Homo sapiens: one gene and its partner. The protein of the gene in region 2 purifies or fractionates together with the protein of the main gene of each other region. This does not show direct contact. Each region holds a gene or a part of one and is shown on either strand. Other genes may lie near its edges. The genes, in order: ARF4 and ASB17.

Evidence for each region.
Region 1: the proteins of ASB17 (region 2) and ARF4 purify together in Homo sapiens (affinity purification with mass spectrometry, with the first as the bait; one large-scale study listed by BioGRID). This does not show direct contact.

The regions. Positions count from the first base shown.
Region 1 is NC_000003.12:57,573,110-57,576,935, forward strand, and holds part of ARF4 (ADP-ribosylation factor 4), read right to left. Parts: intron 2,565-3,826; coding exon 2,439-2,564; intron 1-2,438.
Region 2 is NC_000001.11:75,925,664-75,929,489, forward strand, and holds part of ASB17 (ankyrin repeat and SOCS box protein 17), read right to left. Parts: intron 1-3,826. UniProt on the Homo sapiens protein: May be a substrate-recognition component of a SCF-like ECS (Elongin-Cullin-SOCS-box protein) E3 ubiquitin-protein ligase complex which mediates the ubiquitination and subsequent proteasomal degradation of target proteins.

The DNA of each region.
Region 1 (3,826 bases), on a different chromosome or scaffold from region 2:
GAGAATGGCATGAACCCAGAAGGCAGAGCTTGCAGTGAGCCGAGATCGTGCCACAGCACTCCAGCCTGGGTGACAGAGCAAGACTCCATCTCAAAAAAAAAAAAAAGAAAGAAAGAAAGAGTAGGGTTTGTTGATATTTTAAGGGCAAGCTTTTCAGACAATTTCACCATCTTTAGTCTCATGCATTCCAAAACGTTCTTGCTTTTAAATGGCAACGAATCTTATCTCTAGTAACTGTGTGAAAGTATCAAAAAAAACCTAGAAAACAATTTACATTTAAGGCATAGTTTACTTTTATTAATTTTTTTGACCAGTTTAATGTTGCAAGGCCACTGCAGGTATACCATGTTGCCAATTATTTGAATACCAAATCTCAGTAACCTAGGAGGCTGGGGAAAGGCTCAAATTCATACCTTCACAGCATGGAAAACTTGTATCATTTACAGTTAGTGTTGCTTGCTTATTTATTGATTGATCGACTGATTGTTTTGAGGCAGAGTACTCACTCTTGCCCAGACTGGAGTGCAGTGGCGTGATCTCGGCTCACTACAACCTCCGCCTCACAGGCTCAAGAGATTCTCGTGCCTTCAGCCTCCCAAGTAGCTGGGGTTACACACATGCACCACCACGACCAGCTAATTTTTGTAATTTTAGTAGAGACAGAGTTTTACCATGTTGCCCAGGCTGGTCTCGAACTCCTGGTCTCAAGTGATCCGCCCACCTTCGCCTCCCAAAGTGCTGGGATTACAGGTGTGAGCCACCACACCCGGCCCAGTTTATGTTCTTCAAATCAGCCTGAGATATCTCAAACAGGCAATAGGTTGTTTTTTTTTGTTTGTTTGTTTGTTTTGAGACGGAGTCTCGCTCTGTCACCCAGGCTGGAGTGCAGTGGCGTGATCTCGGCTCACTGCAACCTCTGCTGCCTGGGTTCAAGTGATTCTCCTGCCTCAGCCTCCAGAGTAGCTGGGCTTGCAGATGCCTGCCACTGCACCTAATTTTTTTGTAGTTTTTAGTAGAGATGGGGTTTCATCATCTTGGCCATGTTGGTCTTGAATTCCTGACCTCATGATCCACCCACCTCAGCCTCCTAAAGTGCTGGGATTACAGGCGTGAGCCACTGCACCCGGCCTGCAATAGGTTCTTTGTTGTTTGTTTCATTTTTTACCACAGCCACAGTATTTCCCTTATTTACAGGTTAATGCAAAACTACTGTAAAAAGCCTATGACACTAAGTTTCTGATAATTTATCTCCATCACTGAATCACTGATCAATGATAAGCAATTTTAGAGAAGTACAAATTTTTTTTTTTTTTTTTAAAGAAACAGTCTTGCTCTGTCACCCAGGCTGGGGTGCAATGGGCACAATCACAGCTCTCTGCAGCCTCCAACTTCTGGGTTCAAACAGTCCTCCCACCTCAGCCTCCCAAGTAGCTGGGACTAAAGGCACATGCCACCACACCCAGCTAATTTTTATTTTTGTAGAGATAGGGTTTCACTTTGTTGCCCGGGCTGGTTTGGAACTCCTGGCCTCAAGCAATCCTCCTGCCTTGGGTTCCCAAAGTATTGGGATTACGGGTGTGAGCCGTGGTACCTGGTCTCCTCCATAAACTGTTATGTTAACAAGCAAACAAGGCTGGGCACCATGGCTGGAATCCCAGCGCTTTGGTAGGCTGAGATAGTGAGAGGATTGCTTGAGTCCAGGAGTTCAAGACCAGCCTAGCAACAAAGCGAGACCCCCCATCTCCACTTTTTTTTTGAGACCGAGTTTCGCTCTTGTTGCCCAGGCTGGAGTGCAGTGGCGCGATCGCGACTCACCGCAACCTCCACCTCCTGGGTTCAAGTGATTCTCCTGCCTCAGCCTTCCTGAGTAGCTGGGATTACAGGCATGCGCAACCACACCTGGCTAATTTTGTATTTTTAGTAGAGACAGGGTTTCTCCCTGGTTGGTCCGGCTGGTCTCAAACTCCCGACCTCAGATGATCTGCTCACCTAGGCCTCCCAAAGTGTTGGGATTACAGGCATGAGCCACCGCACCCAGCCCCCCATCTCCACTTTTAAAACAAGCAAACAAACATTACTGGACCCTTAATAAGAAAGCCAGATTTCAAAATATTTGCTGTAGGGTTACTTAAAAGATACAAAATTAAAATTAAGACTATCAATAATCTTCTTTCCATTCCTTCCACCTCTCCCTTCAAAAAAAAAAAAAAAGAAAAAAGAAACTATCAATAATCTTTAGACCTATTCTACAGTAGTTTTCCGTTTCTTTACAAAAATCAAATAAGGTATTTAAAGTTTATTACCATATTTTTAAATAAATGATGTGCTCATTATTTGTCCAAAGGAGATAATAAATGTTTAAACTGAATATTAGCTTACACAACTATCCTAGTAAGTCTTAATAGTCAAGAGGTTAATATCAACCTCCAAATACTTACTGTTCTGTTACGAAGAGACTGAAGCCCTAGTTTATCTGTCATTTCACTGATGGCCATAGCATTTGGCAAATCCTGTTTGTTTGCAAAAAGTAGCAGCACTGCATCTCTCAATTCATCTACCAGAAGCTGGAAATAAAAGGTAAGGCATTAACAACTACCAACCGGAATCCAATTTTTGAAAATGTCTTCCTATATATACTTTACTCAGCATTAAATACATTATTAAACATTAACCTAATTTCTCGACACAAAGTTCACTCTTACAACTGAAGTCTCATATCCTTCAGTTTTTAAATCCAGAGCAAACAATCATATGCCTTCAAATAAGACAGAACTGTTTTCCAAGTCAATCATCCTACACCCCATTAAATTAAAGCAAATCACTCATCATTCAGCCTTCATGATTACCCATTGTCAGGACTGATAAGGGCAAGAAATACATGTGGGAATAAAATGTTTATGGCAGGTTCTTATGGTACTTAGTAGCAGAAGTACTTAGATAGATGATGATTCTTTTCGGACTTCTATCCTTTCCAACAACAGTGGGACAATAACACAATTATCTGGGTGTTGGCAGTATCATGAAATATACAAAAAAAAAGTACCAAGAACAGAAGTTGTACTGATGCATGATGCAATATAGACGAACCCTGAAAAATTATGCTAAGTGAAAAAATCAGTCACAAAAGAACACATTGTATGTTTTCATTTATATGAATGTCCAGAATAGGTGACTGTATAAAGACAAATTAGTGGCTGTCAGAGGCTGGGAGTGTGGTGTACGAGAGGAAGGAAATGGGAATGACTGCTAATGGTCCAAGATTTCTTTGAGGGTGATGAAAATTTTCTAGTATTAGATTGTGATGATGGTTGTACAACTATGTATGCTAAAAGCCATTGATATGCACATTTAAAAAGGATGACATTTATAGTGTGTGAAGTATGTCTCAACCAAGCTTTTTTTTTTTTTTTTTTTTTTGAAGAGGGAAAGCTGGTGACATTTGACTCAGGCAAAAATCCAACAATGACTTAGTTACACATATACTGGCACAATGGTTTTACAAACTGCCCTCTAATCTTAGGAGGAATGAACAAGAATTAAGATTTCATTTCAGTAAATATTTTATGGCTACAAGTTTAAAATCATGACAAGGATTCTCAGCAGTCTTCCTCCATTTAGTACATTTAACAACATGAACACATGAAAACATTAATCCAATCTATGGGAAGGCTGCAAAATGCCACTGTGAACCAAACATTTGTCTCTACTTTCAGAAGGAATTCCTTATCCTTAAATGGTTACTATTAAAAAACATTTCTGAAGTAATTATTGGCACAGCATAGAGAAAATGGAACCGATGACCTTGGGAACAAAACATCTGAACCAA
Region 2 (3,826 bases):
AATGAACTGAACTCTTGGTATCTGAAAACCTGTCATAATGCTTATGAAATGGGGCATAATATTTCCATACAGACATGCAGAGAATTATTCAGTTTTTTAGCTATAATTATTTCTAATTTTTTTCCCTTCTCATTCTCCTTCAATTTCTAGCTGAAAAATTTGATAGATGCTTCTCCAGAATAATTTTACATGTGTGATATTTCACACAGTTGACTTTCTTAAAACTATGTTTTCCTTTTACTCAGTTGGGCTAGTCTCTCCAAGTTACCCATTCATCTCTTTGGCTATTTCTCCTCAACTGTCTTTCACTGGCTCCTCTTCCTCTGCCCTCAACATCTAAGTAAGTATGCATGGCCTTTAGACCAATTTTATTTGGCTATTCCCAGGCAATTTCATTTATGACCATAACTTCAATTCCTGTCCATTTATTTATTTCAACAAATACTGAATGCATACTATATGCCAGGAACTGTTTTAGGTGCTTGGGATATATCAGGAAACAAAATAAAGATCCTTACTATCTTGCTTATATTATAGTGAACGATTAACAACAATGTAGGATGAACACAGTAAACAAGCAAATTTTATGTTAGCAGGTGATGAGTGCTTGGAAAAAAGAATAAGTAGAGCAGAATAAGAAGTATGGATATGCTGTGGGCTGGTACGGTCAGGGCATTTTTAAATATTAAATAAGATGATGGAAGAGTACATTATTGAAAGATGACATTTGAACAAAGACCAGAAGGAGGTGCGGAAGTTAACCATTTGGATATTTCAGGGCCCTATGGCGGGAGACTGTGCCTGGAGTGATGAAGGAAGAATAACGGAACCAGCGCGGCTGAAAAGAGGACAGAGGTAATGGGATGCCACATTATTTAGAGCCTTATGGATCACTGTAAGAACTTCACCTTTTACTCTAAACCAAAAGGACAAGCCATTGGAGGTTTTGAGTAGAAGAGTAGTGTGATCTGCCCTTTGTTGAGAATTTGTTATAGAAGGAAGGAAATCACTTAGCTTGGAACATAGTAGTGGAGACAGCCAGATGCTGTACATTATTTGCAGGTAGAACCAACAGATCCCAATATAGACGTGAGATGTAAGAGAAACATTAAGGATGGCACTGTTTATCTAGCCACGTATTGCACATCTCTACCTCGATATCCATTAGGCAGTGCAAACTCATATGTCTAAAACTGATTTTATAGGTTTTTTAAAATATTTTATCTCGATAAGCTTGTATGACCATTTTGGTGGGCTGAATAATGGCCCCTCAGTATGGCAAATAGGATTTTGCAGATATGATTAAGATCTTGAGGTGGGAAATTAACTAGGTGTGCCCAGTGTAATTGCAAGAGTCCTTATAAGTGCAGAGAATGTTGGAAGCAGAGTCAATGAATAAGATATGATGATATTACAGTGCTAGCTTTGAAGATGAAGAGGCTATCAGCCAAGGAATGTAGATGGCCTCTGAAAGCTGGCAAAGGCAAGAAAACAGATTCTTCCCTAGAGCCTCCGTAAGGCACTGGACCTACTAACAATTTGATTTAGCTCTATAAGACTCATTTTGGACTTTTGAACTCCAGAACTATAAGAACTAAACTATAAATTTGTGTTGTTTTAAGCCACTAAGTTTGTGGTAATTTGTTGCAGCAGCAACAGGAAACTAATACAACTTTCGACCACTCTCAAAATTTAGAAATCTGAAGATTAACTCTTTCTTCTCTTAGATCCTCCAATTCTGATCACTTACCGTGTCTTGTAATTCTGTCTAAAAATCTCTCTCCTTTCTCCCACTGCTACTGTTTTAGTTTAAGTTCTCATAATTTGCCTGGACAGTTGTAGTATCAAAGGGTGAACAGAGGTTGGGAGGGATGTTGGTAGAAGAGAATTAGTTCTCCCCTCAAAACTATTATAAATACACATGTAAACTAAGTACATGTACTATGCATGCTATGCAAATTCAGCCTCAGGGACCTTCTCTAACCACCCCCCTTTAAAAAAATTAGATCACTTTCCCCCCAACTCTTCCCACATAGAACATTGTACTTGGAGTGCTTGAGTAGTCTACTAACTGGTTTCCCTGCCCTAGCTGCAGCCTGTTTTCCCAAAATCCAATCTTCAAATGGGGCTGATAAATCTTTTTAATTGTACAAGTTGATTGACCTTCACTGGCCAGGCATTACCCATGGTGTAAATTTCATGTTCCTCACTCTGGCCTACAAAGTCCTTCATTCTTTCAATTCCAGTCTTCATTTCTCTTACTACATGATTCCTATCTCACTCTCTAGCTATTACTAAACTGCTTGTAGTCATTGGATACAACAATGTTGTTTGTATCTCCCTTAGTTTCAGTAATCCTCCTTCTATCTAGATTACATGTCTTCAAGGGAAAGAAAGAAGAAACTCTTTGTTATCTTTTAAAAATCAGTTTAAGACATCACCTATTCTATTGAGCCTTCTCAGATACCTACTCCTCCCTAATGGTGTTAACAATTTCCTTCTCTGCTCTCTCTACCTGTGCATGCTTCTATTTTTGTACCTAGAGTGTGGCTATAATTGCTGTTTAAATTTATGCCTCACTTACTAGTATATGAGCTCTCTAAAATCAGGAAATGTGTCTACTTTGTTTTTGTATCCCCAATAAATAACATAGTGTCTGGCACTTAAAAAATGCTTAATATTTATTATTGTTATTTGAATGGAATGACATCTCTCTTTAGCCACCTACAATCTGTCACACTGTGGCATTTAGATGTTTTTTGCAGATTTGTGGTGAAAATGAACAAACTTAAGTTTCTTCCCCTCGTTAATTCTATCTCCTCTCCTCCAGGGAGATATAATAGGGAAATTATCAAATTAGAGTCTAAACAAGGGAGGATGACCAAAGAATGATGTTGTCGAAGTAAAGAACAACAGATAATAGGAAATTTGGGGTATTCATTATGAGGACATAATAGATGTGTTCAAATACTTGAGAAGTTTTCTTTTAGAAAAGAGAGTTAGCAGACTGATCTTTATAGCTACTTGGGCAGGGTTGGAGAAATGCAAGACTTCAGTGCAGTACAGGAAAGAAGAATCAAATAAAGCTGCTTCAAAATTCACTTACTCATTCAACAAAATCTTGATTGAGCAGTTGCTACGTATCTGACATAGTTCTACACACTCTATCCGTGAGGATAGATAGTGAGCAAACCAATGAAAAAGGAACAACAGTAAATAAACAGGTCAGTGATCAGCAGGTGCAGAGAATTAAAGTAAACTACTGTAATGACTGAGTGGCTTCTTTAGATTGTGTGAGTAGGAAAGGCCTCTTTGAGAAGATGGTATTTATACTGTGACCTAGCTGATGAGGAGGAAGGTCCAATTGAATAAATTTTCAGGCAGAGGGAACAGTATTATGAGGCCTTATGGCAGGAATGAACTTGAAGATGTTCAAGAAACAGAAAGGTCTTTGTGGCTGGAATATAGTGTTCAAAAGGGAGAGTAATACAAGATGGGGTTTGGGAGAAATACAGAGGGACCTTTCATGTAGGGTTTTTATTTTTTTTTATTTATTTATTTATTTTTTTTTATTTTTTTGAGACGGATTCTCGCTCTGTCGCCCAGGTTGGAGTGCAGTGGCGCGACCTCAGCTCATTGCAAGCTCTGCCTTCCGGGTTCACGCCATTCTCCTGCCTCAGCCTCCCGAGTAGCTGGGACTACAGGCGCCCGCCACTGCGCCCAGCTAATTTTTTTTTTTTTGTATTTTTAGTAGAGACAGGGTTTCACCATGGTCTCGATCTCCTGACCTCGTGATCCGCCCGCCTCAGCCTCCCAAAGTGCTGGG